Linked DNA regions of Homo sapiens. The protein of the gene in region 4 purifies or fractionates together with the protein of the main gene of each other region. This does not show direct contact. Each region holds a gene or a part of one and is shown on either strand. Other genes may lie near its edges.

What was found.
Region 1: the proteins of RNF13 (region 4) and NR2F2 purify together in Homo sapiens (affinity purification with mass spectrometry; 3 studies listed by BioGRID and IntAct, with this or other methods). This does not show direct contact.
Region 2: the proteins of RNF13 (region 4) and CLCN7 purify together in Homo sapiens (affinity purification with mass spectrometry; 3 studies listed by BioGRID and IntAct, with this or other methods). This does not show direct contact.
Region 3: the proteins of RNF13 (region 4) and AP3S2 purify together in Homo sapiens (affinity purification with mass spectrometry; 3 studies listed by BioGRID and IntAct, with this or other methods). This does not show direct contact.

The regions. Positions count from the first base shown.
Region 1 is NC_000015.10:96,333,686-96,340,711, reverse strand, and holds the end of NR2F2 (COUP transcription factor 2), read right to left. Parts: intron 6,948-7,026; exon of another isoform or gene 6,855-6,947; intron 6,637-6,854; coding exon 6,109-6,636; intron 3,365-6,108; coding exon 3,090-3,364; 3' UTR 454-3,089; downstream 1-453. UniProt on the Homo sapiens protein: Ligand-activated transcription factor. Activated by high concentrations of 9-cis-retinoic acid and all-trans-retinoic acid, but not by dexamethasone, cortisol or progesterone (in vitro). Regulation of the apolipoprotein A-I gene transcription.
Region 2 is NC_000016.10:1,444,425-1,451,044, forward strand, and holds the end of CLCN7 (H(+)/Cl(-) exchange transporter 7), read right to left. Parts: intron 6,243-6,620; coding exon 6,073-6,242; intron 4,904-6,072; coding exon 4,852-4,903; intron 4,670-4,851; coding exon 4,542-4,669; intron 4,343-4,541; coding exon 4,257-4,342; intron 4,061-4,256; coding exon 3,931-4,060; intron 3,291-3,930; coding exon 3,231-3,290; intron 3,145-3,230; coding exon 2,968-3,144; intron 2,663-2,967; coding exon 2,582-2,662; intron 2,294-2,581; coding exon 2,207-2,293; 3' UTR 511-2,206; downstream 1-510. UniProt on the Homo sapiens protein: Slowly voltage-gated channel mediating the exchange of chloride ions against protons. Functions as antiporter and contributes to the acidification of the lysosome lumen and may be involved in maintaining lysosomal pH.
Region 3 is NC_000015.10:89,869,986-89,877,011, forward strand, and holds part of AP3S2 (AP-3 complex subunit sigma-2), read right to left. Parts: exon of another isoform or gene 6,808-7,026; intron 1,562-6,807; coding exon 1,490-1,561; intron 1-1,489. Other genes in the region: ARPIN-AP3S2 (uncharacterized protein LOC100526783), read right to left, coding at 1,490-1,561. UniProt on the Homo sapiens protein: Part of the AP-3 complex, an adaptor-related complex which is not clathrin-associated. The complex is associated with the Golgi region as well as more peripheral structures.
Region 4 is NC_000003.12:149,816,195-149,823,220, reverse strand, and holds part of RNF13 (E3 ubiquitin-protein ligase RNF13 isoform 1 precursor), read right to left. Parts: intron 5,935-7,026; exon of another isoform or gene 648-5,934; intron 1-647. UniProt on the Homo sapiens protein: E3 ubiquitin-protein ligase that regulates cell proliferation. Involved in apoptosis regulation. Mediates ER stress-induced activation of JNK signaling pathway and apoptosis by promoting ERN1 activation and splicing of XBP1 mRNA.

The DNA.
Region 1 (7,026 bases), on a different chromosome or scaffold from region 4:
GGTTGGGAAAAGAAATAAAGCGAGCTCAGATCAGATGAAAAAAAAAAAAAAAAAAAAACCCAGCAAGGAAAAAGAGACACTTAAAGGGAAAGAGTCGCCATGTTTAGCAGCTTTTTTAAAGATCTCGTCAATTTCACACAGAACGCGCTCGCTGGGTCCCAGCCCTCGTCTTTTGTCCAATTCAGTCGCAGCAAAGATCTTTTGTTCTAACTCAGCGTGAAAAGAAAAACTTTCTTTAAATGCAATAAACTTAAACCGAACTCAAGACTCTAAACAGATCCTCCTCCGGCCACTCTAAACATATACAAGGGGGTTTGTTTTAACCGGTTGAAAAATTTTGGGTCCTGTTTTTCTGCCTCGCAGACCCCAAGCTCATTGCTTAAACTTAAGAGTGCGAGAGAGATTTCCAACGTCTAGAACACATGCTTAAAGCATAATAAAACAGGGATTGTCTTTTGCTTTGAAAATCATAAATTATAATTTAATGCCAATAATAATTTACAACAAATGGCTGTTTACAATAAACTAACACAAAACAAACAAGGAAAAGGGCCTGTGTTTTACTTATTAGAGAAACTTCACACACTCACATGGATAGCACTTGCAAGAGGAAGAAAATCAACAACAACCGACAAAACCTCGAACTAAAGGTCAGCAATACTGTGCCGTAAGAACATACTTGTATTTATATATGTATATATCTACAGAAATAAGTGAGAGTCAGATGGAGAACTCTGCACAAATCAGATTTTACTGGTCTGCATGTATTGACTGGATCTGAATATTAACGTTTAATACACTTTACAAAATTATCCCTGTTCTTTCACCTCCCTCACTAGTCCTCCCCCCCCCCCACCAATTAGAATTAAACCACAACATGATGAAGTACTGGCGGTGGGGGGGTGGGTTGGAAACCTTGAATAAGAACAAAATTGCAAGCTCCCAGCACCGAGCTTCCTCCAAACCAGGAAAAGAGAAAGAGGAAAAATGAAAAAAAGACTCCAAAAGAAATAGTTACTACTTCCAAATCAGCACACCCTGTAAAGTTTCCCTCCTTCCTTCTTTCTTTTTCTCTGTCCTGCTTTCTCTTCCTTAATTTGGCTTCTAAGGACAAAGGATCCCAAGAGCAGTACAGATTGTAGCCACACAATCTGAAATGTCAAAATGTCGATGTGTTTTTATGTACATAACTCCAATGGAAAAGATTCCCTTGACCCTGTGGTCATGCTCTCACAGACTGAAGGTAAAGGGGGGGAGGGGAGAGGGAAACCAACTGCAAGTTATCATATATACATTAAAAGTAGACCTTTCAGTCTTAGAACCTGTATCACTGAATTTGAAACTCTCTCAACAACCACGCTAGAGTAGAATCACAGAATATTTTAAAAAATCGTACCTACTTAAGGAAAAACTCACTGCAAACAACTGTCCTCTAGTTACAATGCTGTGATTAGCTTGCTTGAACGATCTTCTGAGTAACTGTCAGAAATGTACAAAAGAGTATTTTTTTCTGATCATAAAATAGATACTGATCTCAAGATTTCTAATACTTTTTCACAATACCTTCCCTAAGCAGGCACTTAAGTGTGACAAATATAAGGGCCTTTTTTTTTTTCCTGGAAAATCCATTTTTAATTAAAAGGAGGATTAGGTGAATGGGGGTGGTTTACTATATCAGTATGGCACTTCCTAAACCATAGATAAACCATTAACTTCAGCTCCCCCCCCAACACACACACACCCAAATTAAACAGGCAAATACAGTAGTCCACCTTTGAACAAACTGACTGAGGGGAGTAAACAAATGCCCCCCCCCACCACCCCCCGCCCGGCCAGCTAAGCGAGAGCTCACAGGGGCTCTTCTAGATGTAAAGACAGTGAGTGGGGACAGCCAGGTTTCAGATATCAAATAATATTTTAATTTCTGAATACTTTCAATTTTCCTTGGAATATAACACACAAAGACTCGACCAAACAGTTCAGTTATTATAACTTTTACAGTATACAGAAATGTTGCACTTAAAAAAAAAACCTTCAGTTTTTTTAAAACACAAACTGTAAACTCTAAGATACTGAATCAATCACGTTACCTATAAGTGCCAACAGTGTTATTTTTGTCATGCTGATTTCAATGGTATTTTTTAAAAAGGGAAAATATCAACAATTATAATACAAAGGGTTTGCAAATATACAAACAGATATAGGATTTTCATAACAATTCAAGAACTAAGCGGGACCCAATTCAAATTACAAAAGTTCACTTTTTATTCAAAACCTCAGCATGTGTCTTGGACACATTCCTTGGCTGCCAATAAATTCCACAGTTCATTCTCTTTCTTAAAATATTTTTTAAAAGCTAGGTTTGTCATGGTTTCTTTTGGGGAGGGGCAGGGTAGGGGAAGTTAAGTGTTATATGTGGTTCCTCCAGTTCTCTAATTAGAGTGCTCGACTTCACCTAAAAATTTTGGTCACCACTTGTAAGTGCGTTTCCATCATCTTTGAGTTGCCTTTTAAAGTTTTATGTCTTCCTATGGTATTTTCATGGACTCAGTTTTAATTCTTGCAGAACATATATTTTAATGATACACAGTTTTTAAGAAGCCAAGATTATATCAAAACTTATTATAGAACCACAGAATAAACTGGTTTGGAACCAGAAAAGTACAAAAAAGAACAGCTAGAGGTACATAGACACAGGACAATTAATAATTTGGAAAAAAAAAAGACTTACTTTCTCCATTCTGCTAATTGTCTCCCAATCTCCTTAAATGCACTTTTAGCAATATTTTTCAAAAATTTACCAAAAAAAGAAAAAGACTAATTTCCTTTTTATACAAAAATGATAAGTAGCAAGTTGTTCTGACCGACACAGGAGTTTTTTTTTTTTTTTAATGCATTCTGTAAAAGTTCATTTGACAGTCTTTTTTTTTTTTTTTGAAATTCACAGTCCATTAAATTCTTCCCCTCTCTTCTTTTAGCAAACTTGTAACATCCTTTTATATCCTTTCTTAACAGAAGGAAATTAAGCAAACAAACCAGTCTTTTGCCTTTTCTTTCTCTGTTTCACTCCCCCTTCTTATTTTATTTATTTATTGAATTGCCATATACGGCCAGTTAAAACTGCTGCCGGACAGTAACATATCCCGGATGAGGGTTTCGATGGGGGTTTTACCTACCAAACGGACGAAAAACAATTGCTCTATGACTGAGGAGGAGACGGTGCGGAGGGAAGGGAGGCGAAGCAAAAGCTTTCCGAATCTCGTCGGCTGGTTGGGGTACTGGCTCCTAACGTATTCTTCCAAAGCACACTGAGACTTTTCCTGCAAGCTTTCCACATGGGCTACATCAGAGAGACCACAGGCATCTGGAAGAAAGTTTAAAAACAGAAGAAGAAGAAGAAGAAAAAGAAGAAGAAGAAGAAGAAGAAGAATTCAGTCATCAGATTAAGAGGTTTGAATTGGGTCACATGAGGTGTGTGCACAGAGCTCTGTCAAACTGCCCCAACCGGAGTTGGAGCAAATGTCTATGTACTGAAAACTTAAGGGGGGGAGGCGGGGTGGGGGAAGAAAGAGCAAGAGATGGTCCTGAGGAAGTGTTTGCTTTAAAATAAAACATAGCTCAGTGTGCTACAGGCTTTCACTGCCCGAGTCCTTAGCCTGGGTCATTGAGAGGCCCAAGCAAAAGTGCATTGGGTCTGTCTGGCCCAAGTCAGTAAACAGAAGAAACCAAAACTACCAGCACTCTCTCCCCTCCTCCTCTGTAAATAATAGTTTGGCTTATAATTATATAGGGGTTGGGGGTTGGGGGTGGACAACCTGGCCCAGTCCCGAGTAATGGCGTCCACGATCCAGCCTCAGATTCCCCCCAAAGAGGGCGACTCATTTTTCTCCAGTCTTTGAAACTGATTTAAGTGGCCCTTTAAAACTGATCTTGTCAGTTTAGCCTATTGAAGGGCAGCCATGCAAACCGTGATCTCTCTGTTCATTTGAGCTGTTTCTTTTCCCCCTTTTTCTTCTCTCTCCCTTTTTCTCCTACCCCCCTTTATTTTTTAAAACCCAGGTCCCTCCGAGAAGCATCCCCCCTCCCTGTTATCTTCAGGAAAACACTTTTCTTTTTTGATACGTGAAAATACAGTAAGTGCCTTTGAAATGAGAAGCTTCTTGGTAAAGGCGGTTCAGGTTGTGACCTGACCTTTCAGGGCTCCCCATACAAGACTGGGGTTAACATATGCATATTGTGAGTCATTAAAACAGATATTCGAAAATCTCCACCACCACCTCCACCCCAAGAACCAGAACACACATGCAACCTCCTCATATGTATATCTAGGACTCTGCATGTCTACAGAATGTAGAGGTGTCTGTGGACAGGAACTAAAAGATCTGTTTGCACAGGACTCCTTCCCTCGGCATCCTCGGAACTGTGTGTCTCCCTCTGAATCAGATAACAGGAACCTTTATCTCTTTGTGAGGCGATTTGCATTCTCCACACAGGCCTCCACATTTTGCAAATAGTCATAAATTAAACTGTTAACGACAGTATCAGGCATTTTTTTTTCCTTGAAAGACCAAGGGTAAGGCTAAGAGCTAGCAATGATACCAAGAAATTAACGACTACCTCCATCGTCCAAGAAGGTGGGCTGGGTGTTGGGTTGTGGGACAGGGGTGAAGGTGGCTATGAGGTAGGGAGATATCTTGTCTGTATATCTGCAGCAGGCAAACGTTCTAGGTATGAGGGGCACTCGAGAAAAATAATCCCTATCCAAACCTCTGCAAACAGCTTCCCTGCCCAGACACTGGCCTTTAATTGATTACCTAAGGACTTCCAAAGGCAGAATTTGGGGTGGCTGTGCTGGGAGGTTTTATGTGGAAAGCAGCAATGTACAAGACAGCAGTTTGAGGACTAAGAAGCTGCAAGCTGTTCAGCTAATGACTTAGTTCCCCAGACTTCTTTCGAACAATAAGGAAGAGATTGTGGACCTCCTTTATGTTTGCCACATAAACTACACATCTCTCCTCGTTTCCTGTTAACAAGCTTAAAAAATTGTAGTGGGTGACTAGGTTCCAAGCCCTGCTAACGTCCAGATGTTTGTTATTCTTAATCGGGAACCCCTTTCCCCTCTCAGCCATGACAAAAGGATCAGCTGACAACTTAGTACAAGAATGTGAAAGGGGGTTGGTGATTTCCATCCACCTGGGCTATGCTGAACTCAGCCTGGAGGCAGCCAAAAAGCTCAGGTGTGGCCCAAAATGGAAAGCCAGACACCTTCAAAAATCATTTTGCCTCAAGTTAATTAGTATCAGCTCTATTACTCACACAGGTTAAACTACATGCAAACTAATTAGATTGCATAATGCAGTCAATGATGGTTTTATATCTCTAGCAACATCCATATCCAGCCCAAGTTGGCATACACTTTGGGTTGTTTGAAAATTGCCTTAAGTGTTTGCTTGGGCAGGGGAAGCAAGAGGCCAGAGTCTTCAACCTCCTGCAGACATTCTGAAGAGTTATGACGGTCCCTTTCCTCCTGTTGCCCCATCCTGACACATCTTTTCGCCTCTCCTGGCAGTCTGCATTATTCCAGTAAGAATATGATTTTGAAAATTGCTGCCCTCAGGTTGGATTTGCCTGGAGCTCCAACTCCTATTGAGTTAGCAGGCAAACTTTTCCCTGCAGAGACAATGTCAGGGCTGCTCCACTGCCCAGGGCATCTCCTGGAGGCCCAGCCAGGGCGCTAGAGAAAACCGAGGGCTTGAGGAGATTCCCTGGGGCCCAGCAGGCCCGGGGGGCCTGGGCTCAGGAAAGGGAGCAGGAGAGGGCATCCCAATCTGGATACTGCAGGTGGGGGAAACAGGCAGCAGAGGCTGCCCTATGGCCCATGTGGGGAATCTATCTGAAGCATCCTTCCTGCAATCCAGCCTTCCTCTCCTCTCCCCAGGACAGGCCTGGTAGTGCCCAGCAGCTATAAAAAGTTCCCACTTTAAGTTGCACTCAACAGTTTGGCCTTTCAAGGAGCAGACTGGGTTTGCCCTGGGGACTCCCAAGTTCTCTGGGCCCCAGCTCTGGGCTAGGAGCCCGTGGGCACGAGAAGACAGGGCTCCTTCCTACCTGAGGTGAACAGGACTATGGCCTTGAGGCAGCTGTACTCGGCTGAGTCAACGTGCAGCGCCTTGAGCTTCTCCACTTGCTCTTGGAAGATCCGTATGTGGTCCATAAAGGCGACCACCCGGTCGGCGGACATGGGCGAAGCATGCAGGCCGGCGGCGGCCAGGAGCGGGGCGACGTGGAGGGGCATGGAGCACTGCGCCGCATTCAACACAAACAGCTCGCTCCAGGTGAGGCGAAGCAGGGCCACCTGGTCCGTGATCTGCAGGTCGGGGAAGAAGGGGATGTTCCGGGCCCACTCGACGGCGCTGAAGAGCATCCTCGCGGCCAGTTCGCAAATGTTCTCGATACCCATGATGTTGTTGGGCTGCATGCATTGGCTGCCGAAGCGCGACGTGGGATAGGGCTCCGCGCGCAACAGCAGGGAAATATATCCGGACAGGTACGAGTGGCAGTTGAGGGGATCCCCGTTGGTCAGCGCGAACTGCCCGTGGGTCGGCTGGGTCGGCGGCATCCTGCCCCTCTGCACCGCTGCGGGGAGGAAAGGAGACACTCCACAGTTAATGACCAGCCTCAGTCCCCAGGTTCCCCGGCGGGGTCTGCCCCAGCCCGACCCCCACCTGACCCAGGCCCTGAGCAGCGCAAGAACCAGGCAGGCCTGCCACAGAGCTGGAGTCGCCAGGCTCTTGGCACCATTCCTTTCAAACCACCACCCAGGCGAGCTCTGAGGGCCAGAGGGGCACACTTGCCTCCGAGGCCCGCTCGGGGCTGGTCCGCCGAGGACCCAGAATTGGCCACCTTGCCTCGGGGTCCCCGGCGCTGTGGGCGGGATGTAGCATTCTGAGGGCATCTTTCTTCTTTACTGCTAAACAGCTGATATTTCTTATTGATTGGAGGAGAGGGAGCGGGAGGGGCGAGTCT
Region 2 (6,620 bases), on a different chromosome or scaffold from region 4:
AGAGGAAGTCCCGTGAGAGCTCTGGGCCTTGAGGGACGAGCTGCTGCCCTCGTCTGGCTGCCTTCTCAGGGTCCCCAGGGAGGCAGGTGTGGGGCAGCGGGGCCGTTCCAGAACCTTCCTTCTCTCCCCAGAACCTCACGGCTTCACAGCCCAACTGCCAATGGAACTCTAGCCCTCAGCTCTCCCACTCCCGCAGGGCCCCCCAACTGCCTGCTTCTGGATGGATCTGAGGGGCCCCACTCCCGAGAGGGCGCAGACACGTGTCCTCTGGCAAAGGGGACTTCTTCAGCTGCCGAGGGAGGGGAAGGAGGCCCTGACGAGGCCTGGGCACGCCGGGAGGGACGCTGGGAGCAGGGAGGCCGAGAGCCCCAGGACACCCCGGACACAGCCAGGCCCACGTCCGAGCGGAGCCCGAGGCCTGGGCAGCGCCATCGGGGTGAGGGGCACAGCCGGGCTCCACGGGAACCCATCTTGCTCAGCAGCCCCATTAAAAGGCAAGAAGCAGCGATGTGAATCCTAACCGCTGATTTTATTTAACCGAATATATCCAAAATATGATCACTTCCAGGTCCTCAGTACACAACCACCACGAGGGAAACCCAGACCTAGGTTTCCGGCGCCGACTCTGAGGCCCGGGAGTTTTCTTCTTGCGTCACCCCAGCGTGGGCACCCCGGCCCGCCCCCCTCCACCTGGAGCGCCTCTGCCTTGCCCCCAGACCCACCAGCCAGGAGCCAGAGGAGGGAGGCTGAGGGGCGGGGACGAGGAAGAGGATGTGGCTGGTGCCCTGGGTGGCCGCAGCCGCTGTCTTTCACGCCTTTCTCACTCCACACGGTGCCCCGACCCCAGGGTCCCGAAAGTCCCAGGCTGTTGGACGTGGTCTGGGTGGGGTGGGAGGGACGACGCTGGCAAAGGCGGGCTGAGAGGATTTCTTTATTTCGCGTTCAGACCCAACACACTCGGACACCTTGGGGCCCTGTGAGGGCTAAGCAGGGTGGTGGCGTCAGCTCCCGGGGAGGCCCCACTCCCTGGGGAGGAAATACACGGCAGGGGGCCGCACCCAGCCCCCCACGGAGGGACCCGTGTTGCTCTAACAGGGACACTGAAGTTGCCTCTGCCGCCCCGTGAGGGGCCTGTGGCGGCCCCAGACCCAGCCCAGCCAGGCCAGAGGAGCCTCCCAGGGGCCCTCAGGTGGTGAGGTGGGGGCTTCCCGGCCCCGGTGCCCACCGGCCCTTCTAGCTGCCTGTGCTGGGCCAGGTGTCCTCTGAGGCCGGCAGGAGTCTGGCCCCCGCTGCACCTGCGCTTGGTGGCTGGCAGGGGCGGGGTAGGGAGGTCACCCTCGAGGCCGGGGTCCCCATGTGCTAGGGGAAGACCTGCCTTCCCAGCCAGTGTCCACAGGGCAGCAATTCCACGCTCTGAGGCTCAGGGACCAAGGCAGGGCTGGGTGTGGGGCCCAGACTCCAAGCTCTGGGGGTTGGGGGACCAAGGCAGGGCTGGGCATGGGGCTCAGGGCCTTGGAGGTTTTTCTCAGCTCTCAACATCACAGCACAGGGCCCGTGAGTCACCCCAGTCCTCTGGGCCTGTGTACCCAAGCCGGATGCAGGCCGGGGAGTGCACGTGGGGCTCCTCTGTGGCGCCAGTGTGAAGCTGCTCTCCGGGGCGGTCGCAGCCTCCAAACCCTGGTGCTACGAGTCCGTGCCTCAGGCCCAGGGACCACAGGCCGTCTGCTCATGGCTGAAAATGAGGCCAAGCAGCTCCCAAGTCTCGAAGACTCCACTGGTGTGGAGGCAGAGGGGCCCTTCCAGGGCAGGGCAGCCCTCGGGGCAGCAGCAGGGGCAAGGGCTCTGTCTCACGCACACGGGCACAGGCACGCAGGTGCCGGCCCTGCCGCTGGCTCCCAAGAGGCCGATAGCCCGGTAGGGAGGTCACACACACACAGCTGATCCCTGGAGGTAAAGAAACCTAGACGAGGAGAGTGGAGGCTGGGCCTGCGCAAGGAGGCGCCAAGGGGGGAGACCACTGCCCACAACAGGGTCAGTCCCGCGAGAGGGTCAGTTCCGCGCCTGCCGCCTGCCCGCCCAGCTGCAGGGTGCTCGCCATTGCCACTGCTGGGGAGCATGGTTTGGGCCGAGAAACCAGTGACTCCGGGAGGAAATGCAGAAGGGCCGGGGTGCCAGCGCCAGTGCCCATTATGGGCAGGGCTGGGCCTCACGTCTGGGCCAGCGAGAGCTCCTCCAAGCCTCTCTTTCCCAGGCGGTACCTGGCGAGGTCCTTCCTGGTCACCAACCCGACAACCTGCAGGACAAGTCCAGGCCACAGTGACACACGGGTCGGCTCCCGCCTGCCTGTGGAGCTCCCTGCCTTGTGTGTGGCTGGGGCAGCACAGGCAGGGGGCCCTGGGGGCTTCAGCACAGCCCCCGAGCTGAGCACGGGGCTGGGGAGGGGTGCAGCCATGGGGCATGGGCCGACTCGGTGCTGGGTCCTGTGCTTCCGTGTCCCCTGCCGGGAGCTGAGAGTAAGCACGGGCAGGAGGCAGAGGGGAGCCCTGCACGGCATGCCTGCACCCCCACCGCCCCCGCTCACCTGATTGCGGTTGTCCACCACCACCAGGTGCCGCAGGCCCAGGGCCCGGAACAGCTTGAACACCCGTGGGAGCGACGCCTCCTGCAGCAGGGGCACAGCTGTCAGTGCCCGCCCACACAGCAGAGGCAGGCGGGACCCTCACCCAAGCTGGCTCCCTGCACCCCCCACCACGGCGTCCAGGCACGTCCTGAGCCCCCACGCCCGTCTGGCCAGCCCCCTCAGCCCCTTGACTTCAGCTCTAAAGCCTGCCAGGCCCTTCACAGGAGACAGAGTCACCGAGTCCTCTCCGCTGTGGCCCCCCCCGGCTGCCCCTCCCCGAGGCTCTGGACCCCACCCCCTGCTGTTCAGTCCCAGGCCCCACGCCCATGCCCATGCCCTGCACATGCCTGGGGCACCGTGTAGGGGGAGGGGTTCATGAACTCGGAGAGGTCCATGGTGCACTCCCGCTCGTCCTGGGACACGTGGATGGACTGGATGGGTGGGAAGCGCGGGTAGGCGTCTCGGAAGTCCTTCAGCCTCAGGCGCCGCTGTACCAGGCCCAGGTTGGACCGCTCCACAAACACCTGCGGGCGGCAGAGCCCTGTGTCAGGCACCCAGGCAGCACCCCCGGGGCCCCCACCCGCCCAATGGCCCGGAGCCTGGCACGCACCTTGTGCTTTAGGAGAACGATGAGCTGGGAGCGCAGGATCAGGCCCTGGAGCCGGGCAGGCTGCAAGACAGGCCCGCGGTCAGGGCCACGGGCCCGAGGGTGGGAGGCTGCGCTGGAATGCTGTGTCGGGCCCCGCTCTGACCCTGTTCCGGCCAGATTTCCCATCTGGGCATGGGCCCCGTGTCGGTGGCTACCTGCTCACACCAGCCTCGCCATGGCATCCCACACGCACAATGCCACGGGACCCAAGGATCGGCGACAGGGTAGCGGGGCCTGACCGCGCACAGCAGAGAGCCAAGGGCCCAGGGATGGTGGCTTTGCTGCAGGGCAGATGCAGCCCCACTGGGTCCCAATAAAAACCAACCTCCAAACACCCAGTGTCCACGTCTAAAAGACACACAGCAGTGGCCGAGCTGTGTGTCCTGTCAGGGCCTCCTGACAAAGTCACGGCCCCCAGTGCCACGGCTCTCAGCCCAGCCTGGGTGCCAACCCCAAGACCCTGCCAGGCCGCAGCCCCCCCCACCAGCCTCAGCGTCCACACAGCCCTCCATGGCTGCACACTCAGCTTCCGGCACTCCTGGAACTGCCAGTGCACCCAAACGTGCAGCTTCCCCATCCTGCAAACCTTGCCGTGTGCTTCCCACCAATGGACTCGACAGAGGTCACATAGGCAGGACCCTGTCTATGGGGTGCCCGGTACCTGGGTGTCATCGGCATGCTCCACCACGGGGAAGCCGTTGTGATTGGACGCCGTGTCGCTCAGCACGTCCACAATGACGCCGACCTTCTCACGCCGCCTCAGGCAGGTCACTGGTGTGCTCATCACCTCCCTGCCGGAGGAGCCCGGCCACACATGCCCGTCACACGCCACCAACTCCCACAGTTACCTCTGCGGGCTGGTGAGGTGTGAAGCCGCTGGACAGGAAACGCGGGGCTGCCTGGAGCCCGCAAGCCGTGCACCCTGCCCCTGTGCAACAAGAGGCCGCTGGACACCCTCCCCACCCACAGGTGTCCTGGGCGCTGTACCTGGCAGTGAGTGAGTGTGAGGTGACCGGGGCCTCCCAGTGCAGGAAGGGCACACTCTGCAGCTGAATGTGCATGTCGTACAGGCCCTGCGGGCGGGGCGGGAACACAGGGCTTGAGGAGTCCACACCCACCCCTGGAGCCCCGAGCCTACCCCTGGGAGCCCAGAGGCCGCCCCCAGAAACCCTGAGCCTACCCCCCGGGACCGGCTGTTTGGAGGCTCACAGGGGCCCCTCCCCTATGGCAGCACCCACGCTCTCAGGGTGAGGCTTCGAGGCCCTGGCGCACCTCAATGAAGACGTCGCCCACGATCTTGGCGGTCATGAGCACCAGCATGATGGGGAAGCCGTAGGTCACGTTGCTGGTGGCCTCCATCATGATGACGGTCAGGCTCAGTGTCATCCGCACAATCCCGCCTGCGGGAGCCATCATGAACCCCAGCACGTCCACCCTCCTGGCTCAGGGTCACGTGGCCACTGCCTTCTCTGCAGCACCCATCCCATCCACCTGCTCCCAGACCCTAGCCCCGCAAGGACAGCCATGGCCCCCTCCAGACCCCGTGGAGCTCCCCACCCATCGGGCAAGAGCTGGGACATACCCAGCTGGGCAGCAGCTCCCATCAGGGCGTATTTGCCGGGGTCCGCCCAGATCTGTGGGAGGTGACACGGAGGAGGTGTCAGTGTGGTGGCAGGCCCAAACCCACCAAGATACACAGACGGAGGAGGCCCTGCCCAGGCCCAGCAGCCCCACAGCCAGGAACAAACCTCGTGGCCGCGTACATACACACAGAACAACCTAGCACAGTACACCCTGCTGCGGAGGCTGCATCCTTGGCCTGAACCAGGCGCTCAGCACCCGAGCAACAGGGGAGTGGCAGGCATGGAGGATGCAGAGGGCACAGTCACCACGCAGCAGCCCAGGCCAACTAGGGAGCACCGTCCAGCATGAGGAGTGAAACCCCGGCACACACGACACAGAGAGCCCCGGGAACATCAGGCTGGGCCACAGAACCCAGGCATGGAGGCTGCAGAAAGCGGGGCACGAGGGTCGGTGGGCACAGGGTTTCCATTCTGGGATGACGGAACATTCTAGAAGTGGTAGTGACGGCCGCACTGCCTCGTGAACGTGAGAAACGCCGCTGAACTGCCCTCTTTAAAACGATGAGTTTTACGGTATTTGAATCATGTTTCAATTTTAAAAACCAAACCAAACCCTTGTGCGGAGGGAGATGGGCAGAGCACACGGGCCTGGGGAGCAGGAGTGGGCGCTTCCTGCCGGGGATGAGAAGCATGGCCGGGGGCTTCCTGCCAGGGCCTCTTACAGGTTTTCAGTCTTATTTAAGCGACTGAAATGAGAAACAGAAGACACATAAGAGAACCCAGTCCCAGCAGAGGCAGGCAGAGAAGGAAGGCCTGCGGGGGCTGAGGTCTGGAGGGCAGTGTATGCCGCTCTGGCCCCCGGCCTCACAGAGAGCAGCCCTGGCCGGACATCCACCCCATGGAGTCTAGAAACAGCTCTGCAGCAGCCCACAATCACCTCTGCTTTTCATCACATTCTCAAGAATAAGGACACGAGCCTCCGCCCCCTACCTTCGCCTGGTCCAGACTCCACACATGGGCTGCGCTGCCACAGTACACGCTGCCACCACAGCAGGACAACGCCCACGGCCCGTGAACCACGCGAGGACAACGCCCACGGCCCGTGAACCACGTGAGGTGCGACACTTTTGTCCTGCCCTGGGACTTCTGCTCCGGCCCGCGATGCCGCAAGACCTGGCTCAGCTGCAGGGCCCCACAGCCTCCCCTCCGGCCCCACTCACCGCCGCCCCCGTGAGGTAGGACAGGGAGATCCCAAAGAGCCGGCCCCAGGCAGCCCCGATGAGCAGGGACGGGATGAAGACCCCGGCAGACACCGTGAGCCCGTAGGTCCAGCAGGCCAGGAAGAAGTAGACCAGCGTGAACAGGCCGAGGGTCAGGGGGTTGTAGGAGCCTAGGAGAGAAGAGGGGCTGACGGGGCCTCCACGACTCCCGCCTCCGCAGGACTGCCCTGCCCCGCTGCCCAGTCTCGGGCCTCACAGTCACCTTCCAGGAGCCCAGCAACCTGAGCTCCCGAGCCCAGCGGTCCCCAGAAGGCTCCCTGTTCTCAGCCTCCCTGGGAAGCAGAAAGGCTAAAAGGATCCCATGGGGAGGCCACAGGGGAAGAGGCTCTGCGGGGCCCTGATGCCAGCAGAAGCAGGAGCCGCGTCCAGCGGGGCGGCCCAGCTGGGTCTAGCAGCGCCAGGTCTACACTCCATGGGTGTGCACCGTGGTGCAGCTCGCAGCCTGGCTCCGGGAAGAGGGTGCCCCCCACAGCCTGGGGTTCCTTTCC
Region 3 (7,026 bases), on a different chromosome or scaffold from region 4:
CCACCTCAGCCTCCCAAAGTGCTGGGATTACAGGTGTGAGCCACGACGCCCGGCCTGTATTTAACAATATTATTTTAAAATCATAACAATAAGGCCTACAGAAGGCACCTCTCCATTCCCCCTATATTTTCAAGTCTCTTTAATACTTGAAAGGGACTCTAGTTCCTCTAGTACAAAAGGGAACTAGATTTGAGCTATGGCTCTCCTTGACAGAAGTTGCAAAATAGCAAATCTTTAACATATGAAAAGTACAAAACAACTCTAAGTGCTTGCAAAGAAAGGGTGCTAAGAGATCGCTGAAGTTTCCAAAAAGTATACAACCCTTTCATATGAAAGGGAGGGTGACTCAAAAGCATCAGTAAATACTGGAAGCCCCGTGAGGTTGTCAGGGAGTCCAAAGTTAAGTATCTAAAGAAGGAAAAGGGTTCCATGATGTTCCTGCACTAGGATGCTGATAGAGTCACAGAGCCATGTCAGATGGTGAGAGACAAAACTTTACTCCATTCTAATGTCATCCAAACTCAAGAATGCATTCACTACATTAGCCTGGAAAGTGGGGATCTGCCAACCTCAACAGAGTCAACTAAGACTGAAGACCCTATTGAAAAACAACAAGAAAGTCCTTTAGACAGCAATGCTAGCAACGATGGATCTAAAAACTCCTACTTCATCATGATGAAAAGGTTAATAAAGGATCATGGCTTAGCAATGAGCAGCAGTCTCCTAAAAAATCATCTCTCTCCAAGGGCCAGGGATCATAATGACAACAATCAGTTGAAGAAAAACCAGGACCAAGCAAACCAAAGACGCACCAGTAAACTGCACAGGGGACAGCATGTGGTAAGTTGAATAAAATAAACATGGCAATTCCTATTCCCTTGCTGGCTATTGCCCAAGTTTAATTTGGCATATGAGGACATAGGCCATGTCACAGTTATCCTAGCAAAACAAATCTGAGAACACCTACTTGGGGCCATTTTAATTCTGCCTCTGATAGTCTACCTTCCTATAGAATATCACCTGACCTTGAATTACATTACAGATCTCTTAGTCACTATATTACTCTTTAGGAAAGATATAAATTTTACTATCTAAGTCAAAGCCCCTGCGTCATGATTATTCCAAAGTTTCATTGTCACTGGCCTATGACTAGGAAACTAATTTTATAATCAGCATAAAACTATTTATCTCACCTTTGGCCAAGTAGCCAGTGACATCATTCTCCTATATCAAGAAATCAGTCTGTGAACAGATGAACCACGATATAGGCCTAGTAATAATCTTATGCACGTTAAAACTGTTAGTAGATCTTAGCAAAAACAAAACAAAACCCAAACTATTAAATCTATTAAATAAAACATGTTCTAGGACTATCTTAAGAGTAAAAAAAAACAAGAAACAATATGAAGATGTAGAGGTGGCTACAGATGCCCAAGGCTCTTGGTTTTCTAGTAACCCTAGTTTGGAAGAGAACTGCAAGAGAATATACCTTATCCATATGGAAGATCAAATCCAATTCACACACATTTTCGAAACACTTATCCAGAGTTTCCACAAAAACCTAGAAAACAAGGAGAAATAGATAAAGAAGAGAAATAGGAACACATTCACAGCTTTATCAATGTCACATCTGAAAGTAAAAGGGGCTGTCACAATACTATTTACTTTATGATAAATCTCAAAAATTAAAACACCTACCTTTTGTCTCCAGCATTAGCTGATCACCCTACTTATCTCGATTTAGAGGGAATAATCTAGGACAGGAAAACCTTGTTTTCAGCATAGCAACACAACCAGCAGACACATGTGGCTCTTTCCCCCTTTATAAGATGCTAATTTATGGTAGGGCATGGTGGCTCATACTTACAATCTCAGCACTTTGAGAGCCCAAGGCAGGAGGATCACTTGAGGCCAAGAGCTCACGACCAGCCTTGCTAACAAGACGAAAACCCATCTCTACTAAAAATACAAAAATTATCTGGGTGTGGCGACACGAGCCTGTTATAGTCCCAGCTACTTGGGAGGCTGAGGCACGAGAATAGCTTGAATGAGAATCATTTGAGGTGGAGGTTGCCATAAGCAGAGATCGCACCACTGCACTCCAGCCTGAGTGACAGAGTGAGAGTCTCTCAAAAAAAAAAAAAGAAAAAAGAAAAAAAATTACATAAAAGAATAACAAATTAAAAAAACCAACTACTTACAATACTATGTCCTCAATGAATACATGTACAAAAAATTTTTCATTATTACAGGGTTAACATAGCTGTGTTTTAATTTCAGCCAAAATTAACTTCAAAACATCTTCCCTTTTTAATTTTTTTGGTCAGTTATTTAGCCTACAAAATACCTTCCTATGAATAAATTTAATTGACGTGTTTACAACTTAAAATTTTTTTTTAAAAGCCCTGAGCTTACTTCTCTATAGAACCTTTTAACTTTTAATAAAACATAACAGAAAAGTGTACAAATGACAAGGGCACAGTTTAATGAATTTTCAGAATGAACACACCATGTAACTACAACCTAGGTATCTATCTATAACTGTTTAATTTCTCTCAGACAATGACCTCATTTAAACAATCTCATTGTCAGCAGTGTCATGAATTGTTCGGCACTGCATGAAAATGGGTCTTACTTGAGGCCAGCAAGTGACAGAGACCAGGCACACCGTTCCACTGTAGCACAAGATGGGTGCTCATAGGCAAACCACCCTGCAGCGGCTGCTGGGGAGACAGACCCACTTGCCATGAGGAACCAACGCACACTATTGGAGCTGATCCTGCTCTGTCTCTTCTCTATGTAAGTAAAGCTTTATCCAGTGTTTGCACTTTTTCCTTGCCGACTCTGATACCAAGATGCAATGGGCAAGAGCATTTAGATTCCTTTCTTGAGACTGGTAACCAGTGCACTGTATTTTGCCAGATACCAACCATTTTGGAAAACTATGACATTATGTATGCATGCTCTATGATCTAGGAATTCTACTCCCAGATAACATATCTAACAGATATATACATGTATGCCAAAAACCACATACAATAATTTCATATTAGTGCCATTCATAAATCTTTACATTTTTAACAGTGCCAGAATATTTCACTATAAGGACACATAGTTAAATGGGTCTATTTCTCAATCACTATGCTGGGTACTTGGTAAGCCCTTATAATCCTGCAGTTCAAGTCCTTCAGTTCTGGGAAATTTTATCGAATTATTTTGTTGAGAATTCCCTCCTTTCCACATTCCTAATCAATCTTTTTGGAGCTGCTTATATTCAAGTATTGGACCTCTGTCTGTCTTCTTTTTTTTTTTTTTTTGAGACAGACTCTCGCTCTGTTGTCCACGCTGAAGTGCAGTGCCACGATCTTGGCTCACTGCAGCCTCTGCCTCCTGGGTTCAAGCAATTCTCCTGCCTCAGCCTCCTGAGTAGCTGGGATTACAGGCATGCACCACCACGCCTGGCTAATTTTTGTATTTTTAGTAGAGACGAGGTTTCACCATGTTGGCCAGGCTGATATCCAATTCCTGACCTTAAGTGATCCCCCTGTCTTGGCCTACCAAAGTGCTGGGGTTACAGACGTGAGCCACTGTGCCCGGCCTCTGTCTTATTTTCTCATCTTTTCTCTCCCATTTTCCATCTCTGCCCATTCTGAGACAATTGATTAACTTGATTTTCTAATACTTCAGTTGAAGTGGGTTTTTGTTTGTTTCCATTTCCTCTCATTTTTTATTTCTAAGAGACCATTTTGTTCATTTTGTGTGAGCAACAAGGCTGTGAGTGTTTTTGTTTAGCACCCATTTAGCAATAAGACATAAATGGGTCTTATTTTATTTCTAATTAATAAATGGGTCTTATTATTATTTAAAATAAATGTCTTATTTCTCTGTGGCTTTTTTTTTTTTTTTTTTTTTTGAGACAAGGTCTCACTCTGTCACCCAGGCTGGAGTGCTGTGGTGTGATCTCAGAACACTGCAGCCTCAGCCTCCCGGGTGCAGGTGATTCTCCTGCCTCAGCCTCCTGAGCAGCTGGGACTACAGGTATGTGCCACCATGCCTGGCTAAAATACTTCGTATTTTTAGTAGAGATAGGGTTTCACCATGTTGGCCAGGCTTTCTCTGTAGCTTAAGAATAGGGTTTTGGGTTTTTTTTTTTTTTAAACTGTTTTCCTTTCTTTATATGGTGTCCATTTTTAAGTTGCTTTTTATTGTTTGTTCATTTTATCTCCTTCTTCTATGTTAGAGGTTTTCCGCAGATGTCTGATAATCCTTTGTTTTTCATTTGTTACAAGAATAAAAGGCTGATTGAAAGCTCTACAATCATGGATATTTCTTGCCCACCTCCATGGTTATTTGCTTCCCTAGCGAAATCTGTCTCACGTGTCCATGTGAAGAGACCACCAAACAGGCTTTGTGTGAGAAACAAGGCTGTTTATTTCACCTGGGTGCAGTCTTTCTAGGTATCAAAATTCATTGTAAAGCTTTGTTAACTAAAATAGTATAATACTAAGGCTGGGTGAGGTGGCTCATGCCTATAATCCCAACACTTTGGGCAGCCAAGACAGGAAGATCCCTCGAGCCCAGGAGTTTGAGACCAGCCTGGGCAACATAGCAAAACATCGTCTCCACAAAAAAATAAAAATAAAAAAATTAGCCAGGCATAGTGGCACACACCTGTAGTCCCAGCTACTTGGAAGGCTGAGGTGGGAGGATTGCTTGAGCCCAGGAATTCAAGGTTGCAGTGAATTATCATTGCACCACTGCATTCCAGCCTGAGTGACATACCAAGACCTTGTCTCTAAATAAATTTTAAAAATAAAATAAAAGTATAATTCTAAGATGGGAATATAGATCAGTGGGGCAGAATATAAATTACTGAAACATACATGTTTATAAAATGCAATTTTAAAAATAAGAGTCGTATTTTAAGTTGGTGGGGAAAAGACAAGCTAACTGATAATGTTGGAACAGTTATCCTTTGGGGGAAAAATAAAGTTACATATTTCAATGCAGACATAAAAATATCTAACAGATATTAATGAGCTAAATGTAAAAAAATAAATTAAAAAAGCAACGGCAGATCCCCTGGGTGCCATCCAGGCCCCCGGAAGGAGCTATTCAGTCTGTGGCAAAGCTTTGAGGTGGCTGGTACTGCTAAAAGCGGCACGTGGAGGTGCCCCCTAGCGGCCTGAGCTCTGTTCTGCGGCAGCCAGAGCACATGCGAGGAGAGCCAGACCACAGTTTGCAGCAGCACCATCCCAAAAGGCTGTTTTCATTAAAGATGTTTCATGAAACTAAGACTGGGTTCTCAAGATAGGGTAGTTATCCAGGACAAGATGGACTAGCCCCAGAAAAAGACATCCCCAGATAGTGGGTGGAAAAAGAACTGTCAGATGCATCTGTTTTTCTTACTCAAAATATTATTCAAGATCACAATCAAGGTCAAGAGAAAGAAAACAAGAAAGAAAACGAAGGACGAAAACACAAAGCGCATGCTGATGGGCAAAGAGGCTGAACTGAAGACATTGCAGACTCAGGTAGGAAAATAATAAGCCTATTTCATGATGAGGCAAGAAGACAGGAATCCTACAACAAATCCTCTAAGAAATACACTTCTGAGGAGCATAATGACAAAGAACATTATTCTGATAAAGGAAGAGAGGGACTAAATTCATCTGAAAATGGGCTGGGCGCAGTGACTCACGTCTGTAGTCTCAGTACTTCGGAAGGCCAAGGTGGGCAAATTGCTTGGGCTCACAAGTTTGAGACCAGCTTGAGCAACATGGCAAAGCCCTGTCTCTATAAAAAACACAAAAGTTAGCCAGGCGTGGTGGTGTGTGCCTGTGATTCCAGCTACTCGGGAGGCTGTGGTGAGAAGCTTGAGCCGGGGAGACAGAGGTTACAGTGAGCTGTGATTGTGCCACTGCACTCCAGCCTGGGCAACAGAGTGACATGCTGTCTCAATAAATAAATACATTCATCTGAAAATGATGAGGACAGACACAAACACAAAGAAAGCCATCAAGAAGCAGAAGTCACTCAAGATACAGGTCTCGTGAAAGGCATCATCGTAGTAGAGGGAAAAGAAGTAGTCTCAATCCAGAAGCAGAGAGAAGAACGATCATGATCTAGAAGCAGGAAAAGAAAACCATGGGCTGGACATGGTGCTTCACACCTGTAATCCCAGCACTTTGGGAGGCCAAGTCAGGCAGATCACCTGAGATTCAGGAGTTTGAGACCAACCTGGCCAACATGGCAAAACCCTGTCTCTACTAAAAATGCAAAAATTAGCCAGGCGTGGTGATGCATGTCTGAGGTCCCAGCTACTTGGGAGGCTGAGGCAGGAGAATCACTTGAACCCAGGAGGTGGAGGTTTCAGTGAGCTGAGGTCACACCACTGCACTCCAGCCTGGCCAACAGAGTGAGACGCCGTCTCCAAAAAGGAAAGAAAAAAAAAAGAAAGAAAGAAAACCATGGATCAGATCTTGCTCCTGTTCAAGATAAAAACTACATCTGTGTTGCGTGTGAAAAATAAGTAAATAAATAAATATGACATGCATAGGAAAGAAGCAGAAGTAGTACAGGAAGCAGAAGACAAGAGAGAAAGAAGAGCATTGAGAAACTAAGATTTAGCAGAAGTTTAAGCCAGATTTCCAGTTCATCTCTCTTCAGAGGCAGAGGCACAGCAAAGGATGCATAAGAAGCTTTAGCTGGGAGGATGGACTAGGCAAAGAAATTACAAGAACAGCAAGAAAAAGAAATAGTTGGGATGGGTGTTGGGAAAAAATTTTTTAAAAGAAAAAGAAATCATTGAAAAACAAAAACAAGAAATAGCTCCAGTTACTAGAGATTTTGTTCTCAATGTTGCTGCCCTGTTGGCATCAGGAATGCCAGTAACTCAGATAGCTATGGCAGCTCAAATGGGAGCCCTGCAAGCAACAGCTTTGGCAGAGACAGAACAGCTGTACCTAGGGATTATGACACAGCAGCTGGAAATCCAGTGAAATTTGCTGAACAAGAGGAAAAAAG
Region 4 (7,026 bases):
CAGCATAAAGTGCTTAAAACAGTGCCTAACACACAGCAAGCACTTTATAAATATTTCCTCTTATTTTTAAGTGTTTTAAGTGTTCAGTTACTTGCCCAGTAATACTTACCTCTTAAATAGTGAAGCTAGGATTCAATTAAAAGTCTGTGTCATGAAATACTGCCCTTCCCAAATCATCCAAGTATTGCATAAATTTGCATTTCTTTAATTACTTATGAGGTTGAAATTGTTCACATTTCTATTCATAATGAAATTTTAAGGCTATTTGGAAACTTCAAGAAAAAACAGAAAAACTAATGTATATTAATGGTAATTTACATATTCAAATTAGCTTCTGTTCTAATTTTATCTTTATTATTCATGGATCTCTGTACCAGACTCTGCGATAAATATGGTTTATCCCTGAGGCTTTCTGTGTAACATCAAAATTAAGTTGCAAAATAATTGTAACTTTGAAAATGAATTACGTATTGACACTTCTCTCCAAACCTAAAGAAAATGAAATGATCTACCTTCTTTAATAATGACCAAATATATGTAACGTGATACCAGAAATGGAATAGCCCAAGTATAGTAAGATAATAGTTCAACACTATGCTAAAAACATATTTCATAGTTTTCACATTCAGGGAAATCAGACATCTTACAGATCAAGTTCTTTAGTGTTCCACTTTCCACTTTCTTATTTACCCACGTGATTCAGCTTGCACATGGAAAAAAGAAAGTAAATGACTGTTAAAGGCAATAAATGTTACACACAAAATCCATTGTGTTTCTACATACCAGCAATGAACTATCCAAAAATTAAATTAAGAAAAACTTCCATGTATAATAGTATCCAAATGAATACAATACCCAGGAATAAATATAACAAAGGAGGTGAGAGACTTGTACACCGAAAACTATAAAACACAAAAACAATGCTGAAGGATATCAAACACACATCCAGGTACTCAAAGACTTAACATTATTAAGATGGCAATACTACCCAAAGCAATCTACAGATTCAATATATTACCTATCAAAATTTCTATGGCCTTTTATGCAGAAATGGAAAAGCTGATTCTCAAATTCATATGGAATTGCAAGGGGCCCTAAACAGGCCAAACAATTTTTAAAAAGAAGAACAAAGCTGGAGAACTCACATTTCCCAATTTCAAAACCTTACCACAAAGCTACAGTAATCAAAACAACATGGCACTGGCATAGTGATAGATATATAGACCAAAGGAGTAGAATTGAGCATCCAAAAATAAACTGATACATCTATAGCCAATTGATTTTAAAGATGCCAAAGACCATTCAATGGCAAAAGAACAGTGTCTTCAACAAGTGGTGCCGGGACAACTATTCACATGCAAGACAATGAAGTTGGAATTTATACCATATACAACAATTAACACAAAATGAATCAGTGACCTAAATATAAGGAGTAAAATTATAAAACTCTTGGAAGAAAACATAGGGTTAATCTTCATGGCCTGGGATTTGGAAATGGATTCTTGATATGACACCAAAAGCATGGGTCAAATAAATAAAATGGACTTCATCAAAATTCAAAACATTTATCTATCAAAGGACATTATCAAAAAATTGAAAAAAAAAATCCACATAATGGAAGAAAACATTTGCACATTATATATTTGATAATGAACAGTCTAGTATCTGGAGTATATAAAAACACAACTCAATACAAAAACACCAACAATGTAGTTTTTTAAAAGGGCAAAGAACTTGAATAGACATTTCTCTAAAGCAGATACACACATGGCCAACAAGCACATGAAAAGATGCTTAAAATCATTAGTAATCTGGGAAACGCAAATCAAAACCACAGTGAGATACCACTTCATACCCATAAGGATGGCAATTATAATTTCTTAAAAACAGAAAATAAGTGTAGGCAAGGATGTAGGGAAATTGGAACCCTCACACATTGCCAGTGGGAATGTAAAATGGTTTAGCTACTGTGGAAAGCAGTTTGGCAGGTCCTCAAAAAGCTAAACAAAATTACCATAAGACCCAGCATTCCATTCTTGGTATATACCCGAAAAAGTGAAAACAGGTTCTCAAATAAATCCTTGGACACAAATATTCACAGCAACATATTCATAATAACTAAAAGGTGGAAACAACCCAAATATCCATCGATGGATAAATGGATAAACAAACTGATATATAGACATGGAAAGGAATATTCTTCTGACATGGAAAGGAATATTCTTCTGCTATGAAAAGGAAAGAAGTACTGATATATGCTACATGTGGGTAAACCTTGAAAACATTTTGCTAAGTGAAAGAAGCCAGGGATAAAAACTCAAATATTGAAAATTCAATTTATATAAAATATCCAGAATAAGTAAATCCATAAAAACAGAAAACAGATGTGGTTGCCATGAGCTAGGGGCATCAGGGAATGACTGCTTAATAGGTATGAGATTTTACTTCAAAGTGATAAAAATGTTTTGAAACTAGACAGAAGTGATGGTTGCACAACACTGCAAAGGTACTAAATGCCACTGAACTATTGCTTTAAAATGGTTAATTACGTGAATTTTTACCTCAATTTTTTTTCCAAAAAAAGCAATTAACATTTATAATCCATGTTGGATAAATGTGGAAATTATAAGCAGCTCTTCCTCTTTGAGGGTCAAAAGAGTAAATGACAAACATAGTAAGTATGCAAATAAAGTATTCTTCAACATTTAATGAGGTGTTTCACATCTAAATAAAGTAGATGTTTCTCCCTCATGACTTCATTCAGAAATATTCATTTATCACCAGCTCCTCACTAGGATTATTTCCCGGTGGAAATTCATTCCCTCTATAAAGTTTACCTGGATATTTCTATCATTAGAAACAGAGCCCGGGCAGGGAGTGGTGACTCACGCCTGTAATCCCAGCACTTTGGGAAGCTGAGGAGGGAGGATTGCTTGGGGCCAGGAGTTTGAGACCATACCAGGTGACAGAAAAAGACGGTCTCTTTAAAAAAACAAAAAAAAAAGAAAGAAAGAAACTGAGCCTGAACTACATTCACTTTCAATCAATTCAAGGTCAACGTATTTCTAACTCCTTAAAAATGATTCTAAGCCAAATTCTTGTAGCTGACCAAGAGCTCTCTTACATCAAAGCGCAAAACATCCCAAAATTTCAGTTTTCTTTTCAGTTTACATTAATGTGGCAATAAACATTTAAATGTTTTAATGTCTGAATATTTCATAATTATTAATATTTAATAATTATTAACTCTATAACCACAAAATTGACAATGTTCCTCAGACTTTATTTCAAAGTTAAAAAGACTGATTTCCTCAGGAAGATCTACATCGTTGAAACAACTAGAAATAACAAATACCTTCCTCAGGGAACACCTTCTCTTAAAAGGAATATAAAGGTAGATATAAAAATGCCTGATTATGTTACTGCCTGCATAAAATTCCTTAACAGATTAAGCAGTTTTCAGAATACAGCTCAGAACTAAACTGTGGTTTAGCACAAAGTTCTTCATAAACTGGCTCGTCTCTGTATATTTAGCTTAGTCCCTTGCCATTCCTCCAGTCTTTTTCTCTGTAACCATGAGCACTTTCTCTTCTCCCAGACTCTCATTATATGCTTCTCTATGCCACCAAAATGCAACACAACTAAATGGTCTGTCACTCCCATTATTCCTTAAGCTCCTTAAAGTTAGGAGCTATACATTTTCTAATTCTGTATACAATACCTAGCATCTAGCACAATATCAGAGGCAAGTGACTGTTGTATAAATTAAAGTATGAAAGTGAGTATTATGATCCATTATTAAGGTCTAAAATACTATGGCTTATTTTTCCTTTACATAATGGCAATGGGGGAAACTATATATTAGGTAATATTTTGCTCTATTTTAAAAAATTACAATGTAATCTTACCGGTAAATAGCATCAACAAATTTTGTAGACATCTTTTCTTAAACATTAGTTTATTAACTAAGAGTATATATTTAGCTTGATGCTTATTCAATGGAAGCTCATGCTTGGCTCTATATTATCTACGTTAGTGAAGTGAAACATTAGTGCAAGAGATATTTTACAAGAAGTCGTAAAAACAGATTTTAACTGGACAATTCCAACTACTTCATTTACAGGTGAGGAAATGAACTGAGAGGTTAAGATATTTATGCAAAATCACCCAGCTAATTAGTGGGAATGTTGGGTGACACCCAGACTCCCATAATGTTGATGCTTTCAGCTACAATATAACTTTATTCCTATTCCAACCTCATAGATAAGCCAGGGGATTCTCTTTTTATTTTTATCTTATTTTATTTTTTTGAGACAGAGTCACGCTCTGTCACCCAGGCTGGAGTACAGTGCCGCGGTCTTGGCTCACTGCAACCTCCGCCTCCCAGGTACAAGCAATTCTCCTGCCTCAGCCTCTCAAGTAACTGGGATTACATGAGCACGCCACCACATCTGGCTAATTTCTGTATTTTAGTACAAATGGGGTTTTACCATGTTGCCCAGGCTGGCCTCGAACTCTGGTCTCAAGTGATCTGCCCACCTCAGCCTCCCAAAGTGCTGGGATTACAGACATGAGCCACAGTGCCCAGCCGGATTCTCTTCTTCTCACCCTCAATCTAGGGGGTATATGGGTCCTTAATACATGCCACATTTAACTGACTCCTTTAATCTTTAAGATGTAGCCTCTGCCTTAACACCTTCTCCCTGTAATAAACATTTGATGAGTACCTACGTTTGTTGAGCATTAAACACATCTAAGCCATTCCACTGGGAGGAAGGGGAAAAGGGAGAGACAAATGCGAATAAGAAAGACATGGTCCCTTCCTTCAAATGCTCTGCAAAATTAGTTACAATCTGGTATAGTATTCATTATTACCATCTGCTTAAATAGGTACAAATACATAGTACGAGAAAAATCTAATTACCGTCTATTATGAAAATGCACCTTATTTCTCCCATTAGCAGATAAGCTCCATGCAGGCAAGGATTTTTCTCTTTAGAACAGTGCCTGACAAAGAAGGTACTCAACAAATATTTGAGTGAATAAATGCTACAGAAAAACCCCTAAGTAGTAGGATCCAAGTAATGTTTCCAAAAATGGTATGACAAGAAAAGTAAACCTTCTTCTCATGCTCAACAACATTTTTCTGTTGGTTTACTGAGAACTTGACAGGAAACTGAAAATAGTTGAGATGGATATATTTTACTACTTAATTCAACATCATGCTCTACCCAATTGTACCAAACCCTAGAAAACCTTCCAAGAAAGGAAACCTACAGTCCTTCTATGACTTAGTCCTGAGCCCTTTTTCAAGTACAAAGGGTCTCCAGATGTTTTCCTTTTTTTCTTATAATAGGTTCTGGGATCTCTGTGTTTGCCCCCCACTTGTGAAGATAATAATACTGGTAACAAAAACATCTCAATTACTATCTATCATGTACCAGACCCTTTTCATATATTAACTCAGTATTTCAAAACAACTCTCAGAATTGGTATTGTCATCAACATGGTTTTACAGAATGGGAAAAATGGTAAGCCTCTTATCCTTTGAGTGTCTTCTTCCACAATCCTGGCTATAAGTAAAATACAATCTCATTAGCTGCACCCTGACTTTCATTGTTGCCCCCCATAACAAGCACACAGAGTCTCTGATTCTAAAGGTTTTGCTATTAACCAATTCAAGGTAACAAAGACAGGATAATAAAAATAACAAATCTGGAGATGTTCAAATGTTCAACAATTCAGCATTCAACATATGTTTATAAATGCCTGGTACCACACAAAAATCAGACTCTCAAAATTCTTACGGTGAGAATCCCTAGCCTCCAATTTACTAGCTATTTTTTGAATAAATGGGAGCCTTGCTAGGTCTAAAAGTTTTTCCTCCCCACTACCTTACCTCCTGATCTCCCAGGACACGAATCAAAATACACTAAAGGGAAAAATAATGGGTGCATCTTCATTGAGAAATCTGTACTTGTGAGTAATTTAAGGAGTCACATCCCTCTTGTGAAACTCTGACCCACAGAGGAGTGGTTACTTTTAGGTCATTTCCTTACAATGTAAGCATTTGTTCTCTTCCCTTTTCATAGAATACACAGAACTTCCAGTTTTCATTCTACATTTCCAAACGTCTGAACAACTCCTCAGCTCCAAAAGTAAACTCCCTATCATCCTCTCTCCTCCTAAATCTCCTTCCACCAAAACCTGTTCTTCATGATAATATCCTTATTTCTGTTAATAACATCACTATCCTCCCAAAAATTTGTCCTAGGCCTATACTCTGGTCAGTTCCCAGTGTCAATGTCATTATAATGTCAACATCTTTCAAATCTATACCTTCACTACGATCATCACTTCTTGCCTCAACTACTATAATTAAATTGCATGGTATTCCTACTTCTAGGCTTCCACTCTTCCATTGGACCTGTTCACAAATTATTATCCATAAAGAGAGTTTCTTCTTAACTAAAAATCATATATAAAATCTTTAGTCTGACATTTAAGAATCTCCATAATCTGTATCCATCTATCTTTACCAGTCTGGTCCTTAAACATATATCCTTACCAAATGTATTCTGCTTTTCCTATCTCTATACCTTTGCTTGGGCAGTGTCCTTATGTGGAACTTTTTTTTTTCCACCCTCCTTCAACTGCTAACAATCTTTCAAATGACCTCATCCTCAATGAAAAAAAAAAAAAGGCTAAGGCATATAATTTACTAAACATATACGCCATCTGATTGCTTCACAAATTATCTGAATCCCCACAAAAACAAGTAAGGAAGGAGTTAAGGAAATTGAGGAGGAGCTTCCCCAAGGTCACCAGCAAGTACGAATCCACAATAGCCCCACAGCATTCCATATTTTTTAATGAAATAAGACACAAAAGAGACAGACGTTCTGTAGTCAGAATACCTGTGATCAAATTCCAGCTACTCCACCAGCTACTTGTGTGAACTCAGAAGTTATGTATCTGTGATGCCTTAATTCCCCCACTTCCCACTTAGAAAATGGGGATAAGACA